2 separate regions of the Homo sapiens genome follow, and region 1 is linked to region 2. The links come from fine-mapping of genetic effects on gene expression. Tissue or cell type: prefrontal cortex. Region 2 holds a variant in brackets; the other region holds the start of a gene. All regions are shown on one strand. Distances are from middle to middle.

What was found. PIP is the estimated chance that this variant, and not a neighbour inherited with it, causes the effect.
Region 1: it holds the start of PGS1, and the variant in region 2 is fine-mapped to the expression of PGS1 in prefrontal cortex (ROSMAP, PIP 0.95).

The regions. Positions count from the first base shown.
Region 1 is chr17:78,374,547-78,382,626 of GRCh38, reverse strand. It overlaps PGS1 (phosphatidylglycerophosphate synthase 1), which reads right to left and starts at 3,978. Exons shown (of 10, transcript NM_024419.5): 1 at 3,819-3,978. The coding sequence starts at 3,961. RefSeq lists a silencer at 3,693-3,932 and an enhancer at 3,128-4,089.
Region 2 is chr17:78,419,655-78,427,725 of GRCh38, reverse strand. PGS1 (phosphatidylglycerophosphate synthase 1) reads right to left here. Exons shown (of 10, transcript NM_024419.5): 9 at 8,051-8,071; 10 at 3,067-3,665. The coding sequence ends at 8,061. It overlaps DNAH17 (dynein axonemal heavy chain 17), which reads left to right. Exons shown (of 81, transcript NM_173628.4): 78 at 618-800; 79 at 1,126-1,269; 80 at 2,155-2,380; 81 at 3,573-4,029. The coding sequence ends at 3,820. Among named protein-coding and RNA genes, the nearest start is that of PGS1, 45 kb to the right of the region's middle. RefSeq lists enhancers at 802-1,302, 1,303-1,803, 4,597-5,176, 7,450-8,071. The variant G/C (reference allele first, on the strand shown) is at 4,451.

The sequences.
Region 1 (8,080 bases), 45 kb after region 2:
TAGCCGGATGACTCAAAAAAACCCTATCTGAAGCATCTGTCTCCCTCTCCTGAGCTCCAGTTCTGCCACAGTCAACTGGACACTGAACACATCACCTAGAGGAACCTGGATACTGATTAACATAACCCAAATGCACTTTACCATCATCCCCAAAACCTGAGCCTCTTCTTTACTCCGTTTTCGTGAAATGTACCAACATCCATGTGCCCCATCAAGACTGATTCTCACTCAGCCCTCTTTTCTGCTCCCACTGCCCCGACTTCATATAAAAGCCCCCACCATCTCAGGCTGAACCAGAATCAAAAGAAATCATACATGGAATCTCAGAACTTGTCTTCCTGGGTCTCTGGCCCAGACTGGCTTGCTCCTAGCTCCTCTTCTTCCCTCCCTCCATCCCCTACTCGGTACCCCTAGTCAGCTCCTGGAAATGGTTTCAGTATTGGTGGGACCTCAGAATTGCCTTTCGCTGCAGTCCATGTCACTATCACTTCTTGAACATCCACTCCCCCTCTTCTTCACCGAGCCTAACTACTCCGACCCCTCCTTCAAAACAGCTCTGAGCCACTGCACCAGGAAGCCTTCCATGACCTCTCCAAGGTACTGCCATGACCTTCTACCTACTTCTTGTAATTGTTTATGGGTCTGAGCGTCTTGGAGGTGGGGCTGTGTCTTTATCTTTGCTTCCTGAGTACCTAGCACAGCACAGCAGTGCTCAATACACACATGATGAATAAATTAACGGATCCAGCAGTTCCTAATGATAATGAGTCAGATGCTAGCTTAAGAGGAAATGACAGTGCTTCTAAATCATTAACAGAAGTAATTTTAAGTAGAGTTCTCTGTCTCTCTGGCTGTCTCTATGCCTGAAAGGAAACCGCGGCAGTAAAAGGAACGTCCCCTCACGAGGGTTCACTGGCCCTCCAACAGCTGACTCAGATCGACAAGCTAAAACCTAAAATAATTCAAGCTCATGACTGCACAGAACTATTATCAATGAATCAATGATCAGCGAGTTACAAGAAACCACATCATTCGGGGAATGAGAAATTGGGAGGTGCAACTGAATAATGGAGAAGAAAGCAAAGTCAGCAGCTAATAAAGGGTAAGCAGCCACAACAAACATGAATAACTCGAACACCAAGGCCACAACGAATCAGAAAAGAACTGCAAACCGAATAAGGCAAAGAAAGGCTCAGAAACCTACACTACCACTCAATACCGGTCAAAGCATTTATCCTCAGTCCTACCATAGGCATTATTTCCGAGGATTACAAAGCAAAAACTTCTGTCTTAATGCCCAAGAAACTGAGTTGCTGGTTGAACTGTTGTCCCAGAGAAACAATCATCTCTCTCAGCTTAATGAAGGATGAAGGCACACAAACTGCATCCACTCACACAATTTACAAAAAAAAGAGATTAGAAAGTCAATTTAGACTATCTCCACTGCCACACTGCCCCTCCCACCACCAAAAAACAAAAAAGTGGCTGGGCGCAGTGGCTCACACCTGTAATCCCAGCACTGTGGGAGGCCGAGGTGGGCAGGTTACAAGGTCAGGAGATCGAGGCCAGCCTGGCCAACATGGTGAAACCCTGTCTCTACTAAAGATACAAAAATTAGCCGGACGTGGTGGCATGTGTCTGTAGACCCAGCTACTCTGGAGGCTGAGGCAGGAGAATCACTTGAACCCACGAGGTAGAGGTTGCACTGAGCCGAGATCAGACCACTGCACTCCAGCCTGAGTGACAGAACAAGACTCTGTCTCAAAAAAAAAAAGAAAAAGAAAAAGAAAAAAAGCACACTCATGAGAGATTTCTTTTTTAAAATATTTGTGTCAACTGCCCCAACATCCTTTAGTAATCAATTCCAATGTTGAACAATGATTTATAATGAAGTGTTTTTCATATAGTTTAAACATATAGAGGGAAATGACAAAGTCACCTAAATCTTGTCTTCAAGGGTAGAACATTTTTTTGAAACTGTAAACCAAATCTCAGTGGTTTGATGCCAGGACGTAGAAGTCATCTGACTTCGTCACCCAGAGATGAGCAGGTCTTTTGTTAAACACTGAAAAAATGAAAATGCAAAAAATGCAGAGGCCATTTCTTTTACAGCCCCAGTCCTGCTGGGTTCACCAACGTGAAACCTAGCAGGTTTCCAAGAGCGCCATCCTGCCCTGATTCTATCACCTAAAAATTCCCCTAAATCAAACTTGAGTTTTCGATGAAAATCTTCCACCATAGATCACCATGAAGCAAGCTCTTTTCTGTACCTAGAATCAGTACACATGACTGGACCCCAGATCTCTGTACTAGATGTCTGACCCCAGGAGGTCAAATCTCACCCGAGGAGTACACGTACAGATAGAAAATCTAACACAATGCAACCTCAACTAAAGGAAGCAGTTCTAAGATTTTTTTTTTTAAAGATCAAGTGTAAGACTCAATTAAGAAACCTATTTGCAGCCGGGCACGGTGGCTCACGCCTGTAATCCCAGCACTTTGGGAGGCCGAGGCAGGTGGATCAACTGAGGCTGGGAGTTAGAGACCAGCCTGACCAACATGGAAAAACCCTGTCTCTACTAAAAATACAAAATTAGCCGGGTGTGGTGGCTTATGTCTGTAATCCCAGCTACTCGGGAGGCTGAGGCAGGAGAATCGCTTGAACCTGGAAGGTGGAGATTGAGGTGAGCCAAGATTGCGCCATTGCACTCCAGTCTGGGCAACGAGTGAAACTCCGTCTCAAAAAAAAAAGAAAAGAAAAGAAAACTATTTGCACACAAGAGAATTTTTTTTTTTTGAAACAGAGTTTTGCTCTTGTTGCCTAGGCTGGAGTGCAATGAGGCAATCTTGGCTCACTGCAAACTCCACCTCCTGGGTTCAAGCGATTCTCCTGCCTCAGGGTCAGCCTCCCAAGTAGCTGGGATTACAGCCATGCACCACCATGCCCAGCTAATTTTGTATTTTTAGTAGAGACGGTTTCACCATGTTGGTCAGGCTGGTCTTAAACTCCTGACCTCAGGTGATCCACCTGCCTCGGCCTCCCAAAGTGCTGGAATTACAGGCGTGAGCCACCACACCCGGCCAAGAATTATTTATCCCCTTTTTTTTAATATTAGCAAGCCTCAGGTCAGCATGTTCTTGGCAAATGTTTATTTTAAAAGACCACTGCCTGAACAAATTGCTCCAAAGCCTACTTCATCATTTACATAACTTCAGTACTTTTCCAGAACACAGGCCCTTTGAAATGTGTAAAAAGTGTTTCGAGTGGCTCCTCTTCCCATGCCTGAGTGTTACTAAGGATTGCTTCACAGCTTTTTCTGGCAGGATGTGAGAAACGCTCTATACACAAAATCCCAGCAACGGTGATTCACTCACAGCCAGGCTTACCTAAGGAAAAGACCCCTCTGAACTCTCCGACACTCACATCCTGGGGCCGAAACCATGATATAAACAGCCTCTGGAGCTTGACCGAAGCTCCCTGAACGCACACACAGTCCCTCTTTTAACGTGTAAGTGCACGGTGGCCGGGGCTCGCCAACAAGCACGGTGTAGACGGGGAGCAAGGACTGGCCGGGCTGCGCAGGAGGCCCGCCGGCTGGACCCGGCCGATAATGGAGCACGAGCCGCCCACCCTCCCTCAAGAAGGCCAGTGAAGAAGCACATAGGTCAGGCGCCGAGCCCCGGGAGGCAGAAATGGGCCCGGAAACCGGGGAGGGACTCGCTGCGGATGCCCAGGACGCTGGGGCCGGGAGTTTGAGCGCCGGGGGGCCGGGCTGCAGCCGCGAGGGCTGCACTCTCATCCCGGCCGCCCCTCTCACCTCCTGCGCTGGCGGTCCCGGTTCCTGCCGAGGCGGTCGGACAGGCGTCCCAGGAGCGCGGCCAGCCCTGGGCGGCCAGGCAGGAGGCCCAGCAGTCGCCTCCAGAACACGGGTCCCGCCGCAGCTGCCGCCGCCACCGCCATGGAGACTCGCCGCTTCCGCTTCCGCTCCCGGCGGGCGCGAACTTTATTGACAAAGGCGAGCGCGGACACGGCTCAGGCGCGCAGGCGCGGAACCCCTGGCTCGGGGAGGGCGGCGCTGCACCGCCCCCAAGCCTCAGTTTCCCCTCTGGGGGACACAGGCGAGGAACAGTGGTCGCGCCGCAGGAGGGGGTCGGAAGCCGGCCCGTTAAATCCGTAAGGGCGCCAGGTGGCCTGCATTCCTGCAGTCACTCGTCACAGGTCGCGGAGGAAAGGATGCGGCGCAGGGGCTCTAGCACCGTCACGCTTGGCTCCAACTCACCAGCTGTCAAAAAAGCTTTTGTTTGTTTGTTTTGAGACAGAGTCTCGGTCTGTGTCCCAGGCTGGAGTGCAGTGGCGCGATCTTGGCGCATTGCAGCCTCGACCTCCCGGCCTCAGGGGATCCTCTCAAAGTGCTGGGACCACTCCCAAAGTGCTGGGACCACCAAAGTGCGTGTGCCACCATGCCCGGCTAATTCTTTACTTTTTTGTCGAGATGGGGGTCTCACTACGTTGCCCAGGCCGGTCTCGAGCTCCTGGGCTCAAGAGATCATCCAGCCTCAGCCTCCCAAAGTGTTGCCATTACAGACATGAGCCACCGAGCCTGACCACTGGCTGTCAAGATTGACTCCTCGGCCGGCGCAGTGGCTCACGCCTGTAATCCCTGCACTCTGGGAGGCAGAGGCGGGTGGATCACCTGAAGTCAGGAGTTCGAGACCAGCCTGGCCAACCTGATGAAACCCCGTCTCTACTAAAAATGCAAAAAATTAGCTGGGCGCAGTGGCCCATGCCTGTAATCCCAAACTACTCAGGAGGCTGAGGCAGGATAATCGCTTGAACCCAGGAGGTGGAGGTTGCAGTGAGCCAAGATCGAACCACTGTACTCCAGCCTGGGCAACAAGAGCAAAACTCCGTCAAAAAAAAAAAAAAAAAAAAAAAAAAAGGACTTCTCACTGATAAGTGAGGGAATTACTGTTTGAGGCTCTAATTGATAGGGTGTTCTTTAGACTTGTACAACACCCCTAAGGTGTTAAACTTGAACAAAGTCTGTTCTTGTACAAAGTCTTGTAACCTGGTTAACGCTGACTCACTAAGGTGCACAGAACCACGGAAAATCCCCACCAGACTGAGAGAGGAATCATTTTTCACCCTGTTAGCCCCAGAGGCTGCAGCTCCATGGCACAGAACAGCCTAAGCAAATCTGTGTGAGATGAACAGTCTTCCACCCTCCTGATATGCCCAAGTACACAGATATCACTGGCCCCTGGCAACACACAGTTCTATGCCCAAAAAGCTGACGGAGCACATCCTCATACACCAAGAACACTTTTTTTTTTTTTTTTTTTTTGAGGCAGGGTTTCACTCTTGTCACCCAGGCTGGAGTGCAATGGCGCAATCTTGGCTCACTGCAACCTCTGCCTCCTGGGATCAAGAGATTTTCCTGTCTCAGCCTCCGGAATAGCTGGGATTACAGGCGTGCGCCACCACGCCTGGCTAATTTTTGTATTTTTAGTAGAGACAGGGTTTCACCGTGTTGGCCAGGCTGGTCTCAAACTCCTGACCTCAAGTGATCCACCCAACTCGGCCTTCCAAAGTGCTGGGATTACAGGCGTGAGCCACCGCGCCCGGCCCAAGAACACTTTTTGCAGCTAATTTTAAAATGGAAAACTTTGTGGCATTCTGAAAGGCAGGAGAGGTGATCTCTGATCTGTAATATGCAGCTCCCTGGCTGACCCACATAGGCTGGGACCTGGAAACTGGAAAAGCTGTAGGACATAATCATAGTCTGCCGTGTTGTGAGGTTAAAATGATATGGACACGTGGGCCGGGCGCAGTGGCTCACACCTGTAATCCCAGCACTTTGGGAGGCCGAGGCGGGCGGATCATCTGAGGTCGGGAGTTCGAGACCAGCCTCACCAACATGGAGAAACCCTGTCTCTACTAAAAATACAAAATTAGACGGGCATGGTGGCACATGCCTGTAATCCTAGCTACTCAGGAAGGCTGAGGCAGGAGAATCGCTTGAACCCGGGAGGCGGAGGTTGCAGTGAGTCGAGATCGCGCCATTGCACTCCAGCCTGGGCAACAAGAGCGAAACTCAGTCTCAAAAAAAAAAGATATGGACACACTGAAAAAAACACTCCAAAGTCCACTTCCACAGATTATGCAGGGAAATCAACTACACATTCCCACAAGAATGTTCATCTCAGCCTTGTTCATGATATCGGAAGTGTGGAAGCAAATCTTCAGGGTAGGGGGGTTGGTTAAATAATGATACATCGGTATGTTGGAAGACCACACAATCATAAAAATAACATGTTCTGGAAGAATATTTAATGACATTAAGTGTAAAAGCCAAATTACCAAGGAGTAGCGTAGAGACCATCTCATTTCATTAAAGGAGAGGAAGAAAGAGGAAATGCGTGTATGTACACAGAAAGACTGAAAGTAAATACCCCCAAATGTTAATGTTGGTTATTTGGTGCCATTAAGGAGTTTCCAAATTGTTGACAATCAACAAGTATTTCAGATTGGCTTAAAGTTTTCTTTTGCGTTTAGATAGCTTTACTAATACTACATGGAATTTGATTCAACCCTTCCAAGTTAGAAATGGTGAATCATCAAATTTCCTAACTTCCAGTAACTAGAATGAGGCCATCCATTGCATGGTTCCACTTTTGCACTGTTCCTGGCCCACGGTTGTTGCAGAGTAAACACTTGCTGTATGGCTACACCGTCATGCTCAGCGGTGAGCGCCACATGGGCTATGGGAGCCTGGTTATCATCCTAGAAGGAGCTGGCAGCTTTTCTGCATGGGTGCTTTGCTGTGCGAGGTACTGAGACAAACAGCCATGGTACAGGCTCACTGGGAATTCCCAACCTTAAAGAAATGCTAGCAACAGACAGCAATATTGATAGCATGGTAAGTCACACTAATAAGTATTTACCCTAAGGATAACATCAAGGAATGACCCAGTCCCTTCTGAAACCACACATCGAGAGCCTCTGGCCTTCATGGCTAGTTTAAAACAGACAGAGCTATCACCAGAGTGAGGCAACCACGACTTTGCTGGGGACACATACATTTTGAGGTTGCAAAAATGTTAAATAATGGTTTTCAGAGATTGTGCAATTTTTAAATGATTCCATTTACAGGATGACAGCACATGCATTGTTCGTGTCAGGAGGTCTCATCTGGGCTAGTTACTGAAAACAAGTAGAGGAGATAAGACCCTCCCAGACAACAAAGGTGACCCAGAGAGCCTGCCTGGGAGCACTCAGGGTGTCCCAAAGCTGCGTGGCCGGCTCTCAATCTGGGTCAGACACTACTGCTGTGGATGGGGTTTCTGGATGCCCATCTCAATGACTGCGGGCGAGAAGACATCTGTCCTCTGAGTCCCCCTCGCCCTCCTGCCCTCACCCACTGCCTTCTCGTTAGTCGCACTCGCTCCTTCCCAGACAGGAGGTGCCAGGGTTAGAAAGACAGGGTCGACGGGATTGACGGCAGATCCCATGTCTTCCCAAACGGAAAAGGAAACCCATTCATTGGAGGGAGAGTTGACGTCAAGGAGTGGTGGGCTGCTGCCCCTGAGAGTGGGGCAGCTCTCCCAGGCAGGAAACACCAGGAAATCCTGAGCCAACAGCCCATGCCTCACTGCCTGTGATTCACTCCCTCAACCGAAAATCACAGTAACACAAGAGGAAGGCCCCTCCTCCTCTAGCTTGCTTGCCTAGAGAGGGTCTCTCCCAAACACAGGGCTGTTAGCAAATTCCAAAGGGAGGAAGTGGCTGTCCGGCCCACCTTCTGCCTCCAGAGATGAGAAACTGTCCCGAGGGGCTGTTCAGCTGTTTGTGAGGAGCCTGTTCTTTGTTAAAAGGAATGCAGCCTGCTTGCTGGAGATGGGATGAAACTGTAACTGCCCAATGGGTTCACCTTGCCTGCTGCCCAGACAGAACTGATTTATCAAGACAGAGGCATTGCAATGGAGAAAGAGTGATTCACGCAGAGCCCACTGTGCGGGAGACCAGAGTTTTATTATTACTCAAATCAGTCTCCCCAAGCATTCGGGGATCAGAGTTTTT
Region 2 (8,071 bases):
TGCTGGGGTTACAGGCGTGAGCCACTGTACCTGGCCTGTACTTCTTAATAGAATGTGGAAAGGCTCTATTACGTACTAGCTAAGTACAGGACTTCCCGGTAAAGACTGAATTCTTGATGTGAGACCCTTATTCCTATTAGGTCCAGGACTTTCTCTTAGTCTAATGACTGAAATCAGGAATTGGCTGACAGACGGTGGTGCAGGTGACCACTGCACTGTGTGGGCCACTCCTTAACAGGGTGTGACCAGCATGGTCCCTACAGAAAGCCCACGTAAAGGACAAAGTCGCAATCCCTCAACCGCTGGCTACATTTGACCAGAGGCTGGTGCGTGGGAATGAACAAATGAGGCACCGAGCCAGGTGGCCTGATGCGCTCATGGCCGCGGCTGCAGGGACTTGTAGTGAGATCAGAATGCTCGGAGCCGCTGGCCAAGGCTCCCTCTCCTCATCAAATGTGTGGCTGCACCCATGACCCTGCATTTCTGGCAACTCTACTTGCCTCTTCCCTCCTCTCCAGGACTTGGGGCTGGGAACATTTTGGGCAGGCTCCCTGACCCTGCAGTGGGTGGGGTGGGCTCTTTGCAGTGACAGGGGCTGTCCGGGGACTGGCTTCCAGGTGAAGGCCGTGCTGGACGACATCCTGGAGAAGATTCCGGAGACTTTCAACATGGCTGAGATCATGGCAAAGGCAGCGGAAAAGACCCCCTACGTGGTAGTCGCCTTTCAAGAATGTGAAAGAATGAACATCCTGACCAACGAAATGCGCCGTTCGCTCAAGGAGCTGAACCTGGGGCTGAAGGTAAACATGGGTCAGCCCGGCCCCAGGGACGTGGCTGGATGGTGAAACCAGCAGAAACCCAGGCCTCTGGCAACCCAGGCCTAGCACAGGCCCCGGATCAGCATGGTACTGCTCCCTCTCCAGAGCTCTGGCAGTTCCAGAACAAGCCCCGGGAGCTCATCTAGACCGTTCCTTAGCAGGAAGCGCTTGCGTGGCCCTGATGCAGGGCGTCTCCAGAGGCGCAGCACAAAGCCACACTGTGTTGACAACTCATGACACGCACTGGGGCTGGTGCTCTCCCAGGCCCCAGCTCAGGGCTCCCCACACCCATCTGTGTGTCTCCTAGGGAGAACTGACCATCACGACCGACGTGGAAGATCTGTCCACGGCTCTCTTCTATGACACCGTGCCTGATACGTGGGTGGCCCGGGCCTACCCCTCCATGATGGGCCTGGCGGCCTGGTACGCAGACCTGCTGCTCCGCATCAGGGTAAGTGCCGTTTTCTCTGAGAGGCTTCCTAAGACTCGGGGACCGAGTGCCCAGAGCTCGGCACACCCCACACCCTAGAGCCTGCAGGAGCATGGCCAGGAGGCTCCTGGGGGCCTGTCCTCTGTCAGATCAGGGCCAGAAGGGCCTAGCCCATGCCCCTCCCACACCCTGACAGTGCAGCCATTTCCTCCCAAAGGAGGAAAACAAGCCAGGCCGCAGAGCAGCTTCCATCAGCTCCTCCTCAAGCGACCCTCAAAGGGTAAGCCGTCCTCTATAAGGAGCGAGGCAATGAAGGCAAGAGCCTCTTTGGGCTCCTAAATTATCCACAAACAGGAAGCCATTTTCTTCCTGACCCTTCTCTACCTGTTCCCTTGTTTAAAATGGAGCAAACAGCAGCTGGACACGGTGGTTCACACCTGTAATCCCAGCACTTTGGGAGACCAAGGCAGGCAGATCACTTGAAGCCAGGAGTTCGAGACCAGCCTGGCCAACATGGCGAAACCCCATCTCTAAAAATACAAAAATAAGCTGGGCATGGTGGCCTGCACCTGTAATCCCAGCTACTCTGGAAGCTGAGGCAGGAGAATTGCTTGAACCCGGGAGGCGGAGGTTGCGTTGAGCCAAGATTGCACCACTGCACTCCAGCCTGGGTGACAGAGCGATACTTCATCTCAAAAAAAAAAAAAAAAAAAAAAAAAAAGCAGACACCAAAGTTGCGTCATGGTAGGTGGCTGGGCTCCATGGCCCCTACTCTGTCCAGCACTTCTAGCTCGCTGAGTGGCCCGTGGAAGGTTCTGGCGTGACCCCTGCTCAGAACGGCCAAGGCCCGGTCGTTCCCATGTCATTCTATGTCCTCTCCTCCTAGCGGCTCGTGTGTCCTTGCAGGAACTCGAGGCCTGGACGACAGACTTTGCCCTGCCCACCACCGTGTGGCTGGCCGGCTTCTTCAACCCCCAGTCGTTCCTCACGGCCATCATGCAGTCCATGGCCAGGAAGAACGAGTGGCCCCTGGACAAGATGTGTCTGTCTGTCGAGGTGACCAAGAAAAACCGAGAGGACATGACCGCTCCTCCGCGAGAGGGCTCCTACGTGTACGGACTCTTCATGGAAGGTAAGGAGGGCTCTTGTCTGTCTGCAGAAGCTTCCAGAGCCAGTGCTACTTGCCAAGACAAGATAAAACTAGCTCTTGGCAAAGACAGGCTGTTCAAGAGCTGTGGGGACAGGCAGGAGAGAGGTGCTCTCAGGGGGCATCAGCCTGCAGGTCAGAGCCACGCTGACCCTAGAGAGGGTTGAGAGGATTCAGGGAATGTGCAGGGTCTGGAGGAGACCAAAAACACCCCAGTCACCTGGCCTCTGCTTTAATGAAAACAGCAGAGCTTGTGAGAGAGCAGCTCCGACGTGATGAAAAGCGCTGAAAAGCCCAGGCTTTCCCTGCCACGGAGCAGTCAGCCCAGGGCAGAAGTGCGTTTTGTGGCTGCACTGAGACTCCAGGTCATGCTGGCTGGCCCAGTCTCACCCACTCCCCAGCTGCTGCCACTCCTGGAACACAGGGTTCAAGGGAAAAGAGGCTGGGGCACCTGTTAGAAGTCCGCCCCCACATCACCCCTGTCCTGCTACACAGAAGAGGTCAGCCAGGACACCGAGGCCGGCCATCTTCTCAGCCCGCCTCTGAGTTGAGCAGCAATGCCACCACCACATACCTGTCCCCTTCAACAGCTGACGTCACCCCATTACCTGTGGGGTGGCAGGGTTGGGCCAGCAACGGCTCAGGCACCCCATTTCCCACACAACCAAAGATAAGCTCTCCATGTTTGTTTATTTTGAGATTTCAGACAGGAAATAAAAACACCATTAAATAGGGCGAGTAGAAATAATAGCAGTCTGGTTAAAGGCAATATTTATATGCACAGATGTATAATTATATTGTGTATGTACACATAGGGCAGACATTACACATTAAGAATCAGGGAACTTTACTCTGTAATTTTTAGCTGGAGTTATGACTTCCTGCCACTGACATTAAGGCTGACAGATGAGGCTCTGAAAATGCCACAGATTTAAACGGATGGAACCCGAGGGCTTTAGCTGAGCTGTTCCTTGAGCCCAGCGGGACGGGGTAGTTACAACATGCAGGCCATCACCTACGAAGGCCTCTGCTTCCAGCCGTGGCAGCTGGCCTGAAGCCTTTTGGGGTAGAGCCCAGCTCTGCAGAGGGCGGGGAGTGTGAGGACCCCACCCTTCCTGCCAGCCCCTCCCTCACTTACTGGCAGCACACCTGACCCTCAGCCATACTGTCCCTGCAGGGGCTCGCTGGGACACCCAGACTGGAGTCATCGCTGAAGCGCGGCTGAAAGAGCTGACCCCGGCCATGCCTGTCATCTTCATCAAGGCCATTCCTGTGGACCGCATGGAGACCAAGAACATCTATGAGTGTCCCGTGTACAAAACACGCATCCGCGGCCCCACCTATGTCTGGACCTTTAACTTGAAGACCAAAGAGAAGGCAGCGAAGTGGATCCTGGCAGCCGTGGCGCTGCTCCTACAGGTTTAGCTCGCTCCTGCCTCACAGCCCACACTCCCTGGGGCTGGACCACAACTCAGCCCTTCACCTGTGCACCTGTGACTTATTCTTTACAGGAACTGGTGGTGGTTTTTCGTTCTCTTAAATAATCAGGTGCTTTGTAACCAAGCACATCGGAACCAGAGGGTGGAGGTTGGTGTGGAAGAGGTGGGGCAGATTAAAGCCAGTGGAGCCACTCAGCTGTGCCCATCCATTCTGTGCCTGATGGCCACTGTGAGGCCTGGTTCAGGCTTTGGGGAAAGGCCCCAATTCCCAGCAGCCAGAGGCAAGCATTCCAGGAAGTAAATCCCAAATCCTGACTTCCCGGGGGGGTCAGTGGAGTTTGCTTTTAACAGGAGCAGCATGTGGGGTGAGGGCTTGGCACTCACACCCTCTGGCCTGATGCTTCATGCAAACCACCTGCCAATGAGGGGACAGGGCGTTACCCCATACCAGGAGCTGCCGCCTCCACACAGCGTCTCATCCGCCATTACTCCCTGCTCCCAAAAACAACAGGACCTTTTACAAGTAAGGAAACACACCCAAGCCCCCGCCCCCAGAGTCTAGAAGAACAAGCCGTTCCCACAAGCAAGCCCCGGACCTGTAGGACTCTGTGGCTGG[G/C]CTGATGCAGGACACGGCAGTGAGGTGGCCAGGCTAGCTAGGGCAGCAGGGTGCAGGCACGAGGGGAGAGAATTAACTAGCAACCTGGGGGATGAGGGGAGACAGCGGCAAACGTCAGAAAAGACGGATCCCAGGGGGACCAAGACAGGATCAACATTTTTTTTTTTTTTCGAGGGAGAGTGAGAGTTTCACTCTTGTCGCCCAGGCTGGAGTGCAATGACGCAATCTCGGCTCACGTTGCAACCTCCACCTCCTGGGCTCAAGCGATTCTCCTGCCTCAACCTCCCAAGTAGCTGGGGTTACAGGCACCCACCACCACACGCAGCTAATTTTTTTATTTTTAGTAGAGATGGGGTTTCACCATGTTGGCCAGGCTGGTCTCAAACTTCTAACCTCAGGTGATTCACCAACCTCGGCCTCCCAAAGCGCCAGGATTACAGGTGTCAACCACTGTGCCCGGCCCTCAACATTTCTCAGGCTTCAAAGAAAAGCAGGCCGCTGCAGCAGCTCACGCCTCTAATCCCAGGACGGCAATCTTACTTGAGCCCAGGAGTTTAAGACCAGCCTGGGCAACGTGGCAAAACCATCTCTATCAATCAAAAATACAAAAAATTAGCTGGGAATGTTGTATGTGCCTGTGGTCCCAGCTACTCAGGAGGCTGAGGCAGGAGGGTCGCTTGAGCCCATGAGGTCAAGTACGCAGCGAGGCATGATCATGCCACTCACTCCAGCCTGGGTGACAGAGTGAGACCCTGTCTCAAAAGGGGGAAAAAAGGCAAACACACCCATTAGGAATATCGTTCTACGTTCAGCTTGATCATCAAGTTTTGCAAAAACATTTTTCCAAGTTTACTCACCTAAATCATGGGTTAAGAAGCATCTAGAAAGTCCAAATTCTGAGGGTAATGATTCACAACAATCTTAGCGCCCAGTAGGGCTATCGGAGGGAAAAGAAAAATCCTCCCCTCCTGGCGCCCAAGGAATCCAGCCCTTTGTGGCTGCAGAGAAGGGAAGCAGTTTCAGCCTCCCCCAGCCTGGCTGGGCCAATACCTCTGCTGGCCAGGAGGGGTCACTGCAGCCCTTCAGGTGACCAGGGGAGCTAAAGCCACCAGGGGCCACCGGGCAACTCACTTCAGTCCCTGGTAATAACCACAAAATGTGACGTTTTTCCATTTTGCCTTTAGATCCTGAAATAAGAAAGTAATCTAGTCCACACATACATATTGTGGGTAGTTGACAAAATTATCTCTAAACTTTCCAAGAAATGATTCGCACTTAAGCTGCACTCCAGCGACGGGGAACACAGGGACTGGAACACGACAGCCCCGCGCACCTAGAAAGCCGGGAGGACTGCGGCGGCCGCCGCCCGCCGCCCGCTGCTCTCTGTTGCTCCGGCTGCTTTGCAGAGTTAGGGAGGCTTGGTGTGGGGAGCTCCTCAGGGAGAACCTGCCTAGGACAGCCTCGAAGGTCATCAGCAGAGACAGAGGGAGCAGTGTGCGCTGCGGGAACGGCACTGCAGATAGATTGCTTAAGCCTGGCTGTGGCATAATGATATTTACTCTGGTCCCACAGAATCTGGAGGAATGCGAACTCTGTTTACCGAGAGCCTCTCTCCAAACAGAAACCCAGTGCCCCTGCACATTCCTTTGGCTCCTCCAGTCTAATTGTCCCACAGGACACCGTAATAACTAGTTGGAAGGCAAACAGTGTTAACTGATGTGATGTGCTGCTGTCCAGGGCACTGTGGCCAGGCCGCCGCTCCACCTATCCCCAGCCACTCAAACTGCAGGTCTGCCTGGTGCGGAAGCTGCAACTGTCCTTGTCTAAGACCAGGTGAGCCTATGCAACCTTTCAGACCCCATGAAGGGTGACAGTGACTCCTGCCAGCCCTCGGGAGGGAAAGGCGAGAAGCTGCTTCTAGAGAGGCAAAGTGCAGGGACTAAATCTAATCTCACTCCCCGAAAGGACAGGCTGCCATGCCCTGTAGCCCAGGAAGCTTCTCTCTGTGCAAGGGTCAAGCACCTGAAGATGATAAAGAGATCAGGCAGTGAGGTCACAAAAGCAGCTCCTGGAGACACTGGGGGATATGGAGAGCTGGCTTTATAAACACACATGACATGTATTCAAAATCCCCTGCTACTAGGTGACACAAAAATGTTTTAAGTAGATCCAATAAAAATAAAGTTCATTCTTCAAAAAATAAATTGCTAGGGAAAAAACAATCACAAGGTGTAGTCCTTAATTGGACTTCAAGTCAAATAATCGAAAAAATTAATTTTAAGGCAAGTGGAATTGTGAACACCATTTAGGTATTTGATGATACTAAGACATTCTTGGTAATTTTTGTTTCAGGAGTGACACTGGTGCTGTTTTGGTTAAGTACACATTTTGGGGGAAGACAGCAGGATATGCACGTTATTTAGAAATACGGACACGTGTGCACATCAGAAGAAACAAGCCAAGAGTGGCTGCCTGGGGGAAGGGAGGGCAGGAAATGGCCGCAGTATTGTTTTACTCTCTACATTTGCACACACTATTCAAATAAAATGAAAAGTAATTAAAATAACTAGGAAAAGCTGCAGATAAACTACACATTTTTAAACAATGAGACTTAGCAGAGCACTAAGGTGCCAGGCACTAAGGGAGCCCACGCTGCACACATGAGATGCCGGCACTAGCGCATGTGCCGGCCACATGGGTCCTGGCTCATCTTTGACTCCTCACCGTCCCTTCCCCACAAGCCACCATCCAAAGGCCCAGCCATCCAAAGCAACAGAACTACCCACAACATCCAGAACCAGAGAGCAGGGGCCTCGGGAGCCTGACCCCACCCGGAGTGCAGTCCAGGCCCTGAGGGATCCAGGACACAAAAGGTCACTCAGCAAAGACCCCACCTTTAATGGCAGCCACCCCCTGCCCGGACCTCTAGGCGTCAAGACAGTCCAGGGGTACCTCAGGTGACTGTGGGACCCCACTGGTGCCTCTGGTGAAGCGGCAGGCCCCTCCTGGGTGGGCAGAGCAGGTCCTGTTACTCAACTTCCAGAGTCTAGAAGGGCGCAGCTCTGTAACCGCAGCACAGGGATGTCAGCGAGGCGTCCAGGCAGCAGCCCACGGTCTGGCTCTACCGACGCCCCACCCTGTGCACTACAGCCGGCCAGGGCAGCAAGCCAGAGCCACTCTCACGAGCAAACGTGCTCCCCTCCTCCCACGTCTACATCTCCTGCACCAGTGTGCTCAGCTTGGAGGGGCTCAATCTGCCTTTCTGCCCCCTCATCCCTGAGCCCTTGCCCCAGGGCTTCTTCAGGACCCCCTGGGAAGGGAGAGCAGAAGGGGACTACAGGCTGCCACTGCCGACCCCAGCACAGGCGCCTTGGGACTTAGTGGAGTGGGTACCAGATGGAAAGTGAACAGACTGCCTAATTTAGCATCCAGCTTCTAACTTTGAGGACAGCTGCCATACCCCTGAAGATGCTGCTCTGTGTTTAACTGAGAAAGGGATCAAAGAGCCCTCTGGAAGCTCTGGTTGAGTCAGAACAACCACCTGCCCCACCTGTGAACTCTCGGGAAAATCGTGCTGAGAGGTGATGCTAGAGACAGCACCTGTCTGTCCTCAGAAGAAGT